2 linked regions of the Homo sapiens genome follow. The protein of the gene in region 1 purifies or fractionates together with the protein of each later gene. This does not show direct contact. Each region holds a gene or a part of one and is shown in the gene's direction. Other genes may lie near its edges.

Region 1 (3,500 bases):
CAGTCCTCTCTTTTGGAACTCATAAAGACTGAAAACAAGGTACAGAATCCTAAATCTAAAAAATTGTTTTAAAAATGTTTTAGTTATCTGTAACAATTTACTTTTTATTTTGTTTTTACTCATGAAACTAGGTCTTAAACAAAGTCATCACTGTTTATGCTGCACTTTGTTGTGAAATCAAGAAATTAAAATATGAGGTAATTATTTGAATTCTTGTCTTAAAACTTTAAAAACATCATTTAGAAGCAAGTATGTGTTTATATATGTACAGTGTGCAATAAATATTTATTGAATGTTGAATGAATTATTTATTTAACGTAATACTAATACGGACTACCATTCATTGAGTACTTAGTATGTACAAAACACCAGGCTAACACTGTAATCCTTATAGTAACCCCAGGAGGTAGGTGAGACATTGATGAGGAAACTGAAGCTTAAAGAGAGTGTCACTTGCATAACATCTTACTGGTAGTCAACAGTTTGAATCTAGGTTTACAAACCTCCAGAGTTTGTGTTACCTGCCATATATACTGGCTATCTAGAGAAAACTGATTTTTTTTTCTTAAAATGCATTTAGTTTTGTGTTTCCTTACCCAAGAACCATTAAAAGTCTGGTAGAAGTTGACAAACTTCGTATTTTCTTCTCCTGCTTTTTGATACCATGTGGTTGCTCTTTATTTCCCATAAACTAATGGGAGGATGTGGGACAGTGAGGGTGGTCAGATAAGATGAAGTAAAGGCTAAAGGAATCAAGATACAGCTTTGAGTATCAGTAATATTTTTGTTACTCTAAAGATGAATTGCTTTATAAACAGATTTTGAATTTAAATGAATTTGTATGCAAATGATGTAGCCCTCTGTTTATTACTAAGTATACAGATCTAAGAGAGCATAGGAATTTGGAAACAAAACAACCTTTAAAATTATTTTAATTTTTTTCTTAAAAACAGGCTGAAACTAAATTTTACAATGGTCTCTTGTTTTATGGAGAAGGAGGTAAGTTTAAAATTCCAAATTGTGATGCCTTTTTGATATTGAAATGAACAAAAAGTTAACAGACAATTTTAGGACTACTATGATTATATAATAGTGTGAGAAAAATAAGTATTCATATTTTTTGTTGGTATGTTTGGTAAACAGGTAAAAAAGCTGAGGAAGCAGCAGCAAATTTGTGATATCTTTGTACTTTACGAAGTACTGTAGGTAGATGAGAATTTTCCTTGAATTCATTAAATAGTGAAGCAAATACTTCTAATTATTTGATTAATGATTGTCTGATTTTTCTCTTTGGTGTAAAAATTCTGTTTTCAATACTATGCAGAGTAAAAGATGTCCTAATGAAAAAAAAAAACTTTTCCCCCTTTTTTGGTATTGATTGAGTTTAAATTTAAAAAATGAAATATGCTTATTCATGTTGCCTTTTACAGCTACAGATGCCAGCATGGTGGAAGGTGATTGCCAAATTCAAATGGGGAGATTTATTTCATTCTTACAGGTAACTGATTTTTACTTTCTACTGAGCTTTTACTTCAAAAAGTTTGAGTAAATTACACAACACGTAAAAAGTTCTGAAACCTTCAAATACTAAAGATGTGTACTCTGAGGATAAGACACTTAATTAGCATTGGATTATAGTTTAGGAGATCATAACTCCTAAAAGATTTCCAAGTATTTTTAGAGGAAAAAGCTATCAAAATAAGTTTCTTTGTGTATATTTCTTTATGGACAACTTGTCACCATGCCTTTTAAAATAATTTAAACTTTGTACCCACTGGAAAAGATAAATTGTATCAGGAAAAGTTGTTAACGGATAGGAGAGAATTAAGCTATTACATGAGCAATGATGAAGTTGTTTAAAGCGGTAGCCCTCCATGCTTCTAACAGCTTGTTTCAGTTTAGATAGCTTCTCATCACTGCCAGTTTTAATGATTGTAGGTCCTTTGGTTTACTCTTATCAAAAGAATAAAATGGCTTCTATTTCCTCCTCTGTGATAAAAATAGTGCATGTACGATGTGAAAAAGCAAAAATTGAAGCTAAGGAAAAAATACCCATAGTCCCACCTCCTTTCTGTTGTTGAGTACAAGATTTGATATATTTCATCAAATTAGGCATGCTAACATACTGTTCAAATCTTTTATATCTTTACTACTTTTTTTGGTCTAATTGATCTAATTGAGAGCATTTTGTTCATATTGTGATATGTGTTATTCAGGGTCCTGTCTAGAAAACTCCATACAAGGTATTTCAAAAGATGTAGTTTGGAGGATACAAAGTAGCAGATATGTAAGATGAGTAAGTCTAGAGATCTGATGTACAACATGAAGATTACAGGTAATAAAATACCGTATATGGCATTCATGCTGAGTAGATTTTAGCTGCTTTTGCTACAAAAAAATGGGTTAGCTATGTGAGATGATGGATTTGCACTTGACTATAGTAACCTTTTTATTATCGGTATGTATCCCATAACATGTTGTATACCTTAAATATACACAATAAAATGTATTTAAATAAGAAGAGAGGGGATTCAATATAGAGAATTGGTTACCCAGGAGTTGGAGGACAAAGAAAATACTGAGGTGTAGTCCAAAGGAAACAGATACCTCCTTTACATCCAGAGAACAAAAAGGATAAAGATTGGGATTGCCAGGATCTGGGAGCTTGGAGAAGAAGCCCCATGAAACTGATGCCTATGCTGAGGTGGCACTGCCTATCTGCTGCTGGCTTCTTTTCCAGCAAGGTGTCTAAAAAATGTAGTTGGTAAGGTCCCAGTAAATGTGGAAACTTTGCATTTTTCATTTTGAGGGTATTTTATTCAGTGTGTACAAGTTTAGAATTGTTAATCATTCCTGGTAAATTGAATCTTTTATCATCATTTGTGACCTTCCTTAGCTATGATCATGATTATGTGTATATGATTATGTATATGTATTTTACATGCATAGCAATTTACTGTACTGATGCTAATCAAGTCTGTTTTGTCTGACAGTATAATAATAATGCTGCCCTGGCTCCGTTTTAGTTAACATTTTCTTGATTTATCTTTTTCCATTCTGGCAGCCTTTCAGTGTCATGTTTTAGTTGGGTTTATTTAAAACCACATATATCTAAATTTTGCTTTTTTAATGTAGTCTGACAATACCTGTTTTTTAATCGCTTAATTTATTCTGTTTCTAGGTCTATCTTATATAGTCTGTATGTATATCTGGGCTTGTTTCTGCCTTTTTACTTTGTTCTTTCTGTTTGTCCTACATTTTCTCTGCTTTTTTTAAACTTCTAGAAGTTTAATAGGACATGTAAAACTATAACTATTTAAAAATAAAATGCGTTATTTATTTTCATTTTAAAAAATACTTTACATCATATTTAGATCTCACAGCTGCATAAAAATTCCGTTTTTAAACATTCAACAAATATGTTTTGTAAGCCTAGTATATGCTAGAAACTGTTATTGGTGCTGGTGATATAGCAATGCACAACACCAACAGAAATTCCT
Region 2 (3,500 bases), on another chromosome or scaffold:
TGACCTTAGAGTATGTTCCATGTGCAGCTTCATCAGCATTTATCTTGGTGATAACATGGATTCCATGACAGGTATTAATGGTACAATTTTTATGTTTTAAAAGTGGTAGTTTGCTAAGGAAAATATGAAGAGAGCTGATTTCACTTTTAGTGGTTGTCATTTAATAAAGTGAGATGTGAGGTTGGGCAGGGTAGCTCACGCCTGTAATCCCAACACTTTGGGAGGCAAAGGTGGGAGGCACACTTTAGCCCAGGAGTTCGAGTCCAGCCTGGGCAACATGGCAAAACCCCATCGCTACTGAAAATACAAAAGTTAGCCAGGCATGGTGGCATATATCTGTAGTCCCAGCTACTTGGGAGGCTGAGGTGGGAGGATTGCTTGAACTTGGGAGGTTGGGGCTTCAGTGAGCCGTGATCACACCACCGTGCTTTAGCCTGGGCAACACAGTGAGACCCTGTCTCAAAAAAAATAAATCAAGTGAGATGTGAGAAGGAATTTTTCTATTCTTGAAATGCATGTAGGGATAGTCTTTATGCCTAGTCAAGCCTAAAACACTTTTTTAAAAAGAGATATTTGTTATATATGATTAAGGCAGCTATTATAATATTACTATTCTAAGTTACTAACTTTTGAAAACTTTTTAAATTTTGTAGTTTTTATGACATGTTAGTAAATTTTTATGATGGAACTTTTCTTTACTAACAGGTGCATTCCTTGTAAAGGTTCTCGGTTTCCCCCAACCCTTCCACGCCCTGCTGTTGCTATATTATCCTTTAAGCTTCCTTACTGTCAGATTGCAACAGAGAAAGGACAAATGGAGGTATGTGGAAGTCTTACCTTGACACTTTGAATTTGATAATACAGCACCTGTGATACACACACTTTAAAATTATCCTGATGGCCAGTATTGAATATTCATTACTGTATAATTACATAAATAGGGGTAGCAGGGAGGGAAGAGGACTGCTTGGGATCACCAGGCCACCTGATTGCCATCACTGCTTCCAGGGACTTTGTCTACAAAGTAAATGGGTGTGACTGTCAGAGACCCACTGGGGAAAGACTTACTCTCAGGATGGGGCATGTCCCTGAGAAGAAGTGCCTCCATACATTTTGTGCCATAACACCTGGCTTGCCTGACCCTAGTCCTAGCCTTGTGTCATCAAAAGTCATTTGAAATCTTGCAGTTAGTTATTCTAAATAAGAAACAAGTTAGCTTTTAAAAATCTTGTTTACCAAATTCTCTGAGCATTAATTATGATAGCTAGGAAACTGTTTTAAATGCTGTATTCCTCCCCAGCTGCCTTTTTTAAGGATAGGGGAAAAAGTTAAGCTGTAGTATCACACTAGAATTTAAATTGTAAAATAAACTTATAGAAAGGAAGAGTTCAGAACATATTTTATTCAAAAACTGGTATCTTAAGATAAATATTTAACGCTTGCCTCATATTAAGGTGATAGTTGGCCTTAAGCAATTTTATTTGCTTTTATAGGAGCAATTTTGGCGTTCAGTTATATTTCACAACCACCTTGATTATTTAGCTAAAAATGGTTATGAATATGAAGAGAGCACTAAAAATCAAGCAACAAAAGAGCAACAGGAACTTTTAATGAAAATGCTTGCGGTGAGTAAAATAAATATACTGAAAACGTTAAAGTTAAATGCTTTTCTATAGGTTGAATTTCTTAAAGGTCTGTGCATTAGGACTAAGTCCCACAACCTAAGATTCTTAAGTTTTTTTTTGTTGTTGTTGTTGTTTTTTGTGCGACGGAGTCTCGTTCTGTCACCCAGGCTGGAGTGCAGTGGTGCGATCTCGGCTCACTGCAACCTCTGCCTCCCGGGTTCACGCAATTCTGCCTCAGCCTCCCGAGTAGCTAGGATTACAGGCACACACCACCACGCCTAGCTAATTTTTTTTTTTTTTTTTTTTTTTTAGTAGAGATGGGGTTTCCCTATGTTGGCCCGACTGGTCTCGAACTCCTGACCTCGTGATCCGCCCGCCTCAGCCTCCCAAAGTGCTGGGATTACAGGTGTGAGCCACCACACCCAGCCATTCTTAAGTTTTATCTGGTGGTGTTTTCCCTTGTAAAGTTCTATCTTCTAGTTGGTCTTGCAGTTAAAATTTTTTTCTTTTTTTTTTTTTAGGCGGAGTTTCGCTCTTGTTTCTCAGGCTGAAGTGCAGTTGTGCAGTCTTGGCTTACTGCAACCTCCACTTCCCGGGTTCAAGTGATTCTCCTGCCTCAACCTTCCGAGTAGCTGGGACTACAGGCGTGTGCCACCATGCCTGGCTAATTTTTGTATTTTTAGTAGAAACAGGGTTTCACCACATTGGTCAGGCTGGTCTTGAACTCCTGACCTCAGGTAATTCACCTGCCTCGGCCTCCGAAAGTGCTGGGATCACAGGCATGAGCCACCGTGCCCAGCCTAAAATAAATAAAACAGTACCTTGTAGCTAAGATCATGTGCAGGAATAAACATCTCTAGGGCTACTTCCCTTTTGCTTTTGCCCATCAGTCTATGTTTTAACGGGCTCTCAAGGTAACTGAGAACCACTGCTCTAGTTTCTGTTATTATTTTACAAAGTTTGAGTATATACTGTTTTTTAATCTCCAGGGCTGGGCAATCTTAAGAACTTTGATCGGGCTGTTAGATATGCCTGCCTTTTGTCATCCTCTTTGAGTTAGGCAGCTGTGTGTGATGAAAATTTATTTGTGACCAGTGGCCAGGTTTGGTGTCTAGAATATTTAAGTACATTTATCTTTGGAGCAGGGTGTCTTAAAGTTCCTGTGCTTGTGTCCCCACTCAAGGTTGGTTTATGGAGAGGAGTATAGTATCATTTCTTCTTTATTTGTCTTACACTAGACTTTATGCCCCAGAGGGCAGAGACCTGCTCACTGCTGTATGCCAGGCACTGACATGGTGGCTTAACACATAGTAGACCTCGATATTTGTTGACAAGAGTGAATGGTCCAGACTTTTAATTTTAAAATTGGAGAAAAAAGGTTCTTAGAGAAAAGTGGTATATGAGACCACAGAGCAAATTGCCACTCTTGTCTCCAAAAGGTAGTACTCACTACTGTCACCTTTATGCAACATGGCCTTAAGTTTGGTATTAAGAAAACTCAGTTTATTGTAGAAAAAGTTTTATTCCTTTTATAAAGTGTTACTTGTGGTCCAGGAACTAGTAGCCTTTTTATTTGTACAACACATATAAGGAAACATATTTCATGTATTTGCTATTTAGCCTAGAGGAGCTTTTCCCTGTGGCAGTGTTTCTCATATCAAAAATACCAGGGGACTCATATCAAAGATGCCAGGGCAGGAGGATATCTTGAGCCCAGGAGTTCAAGGGGATTGTTGAGTTCTTCTTTAGCATTCCTGACCCCCGGGCAAATGCCTTTAGTTCAGAATAGTCACTGTGGAAACCAGACTATTCCTTTTTATTTCTTTTTTTTTTTTTGAAACGAAGTCTCGCTCTGTTGCCCAGGCTGGAGTGCAG

What was found. Proteins that work in one complex are often made in the same cells at the same time.
Region 2: the proteins of WASHC4 (region 1) and WDHD1 fractionate together in Homo sapiens (co-fractionation; one large-scale study listed by BioGRID). This does not show direct contact.

The regions. Positions count from the first base shown.
Region 1 is NC_000012.12:105,114,231-105,117,730, forward strand, and holds part of WASHC4 (WASH complex subunit 4), read left to right. Parts: coding exon 1-39; intron 40-131; coding exon 132-197; intron 198-953; coding exon 954-999; intron 1,000-1,430; coding exon 1,431-1,498; intron 1,499-3,500. UniProt on the Homo sapiens protein: Acts as a component of the WASH core complex that functions as a nucleation-promoting factor (NPF) at the surface of endosomes, where it recruits and activates the Arp2/3 complex to induce actin polymerization, playing a key role in the fission of tubules that serve as transport intermediates during endosome sorting.
Region 2 is NC_000014.9:54,964,600-54,968,099, reverse strand, and holds part of WDHD1 (WD repeat and HMG-box DNA-binding protein 1), read left to right. Parts: intron 1-705; coding exon 706-820; intron 821-1,493; coding exon 1,494-1,625; intron 1,626-3,500. UniProt on the Homo sapiens protein: Core replisome component that acts as a replication initiation factor. Binds directly to the CMG complex and functions as a hub to recruit additional proteins to the replication fork.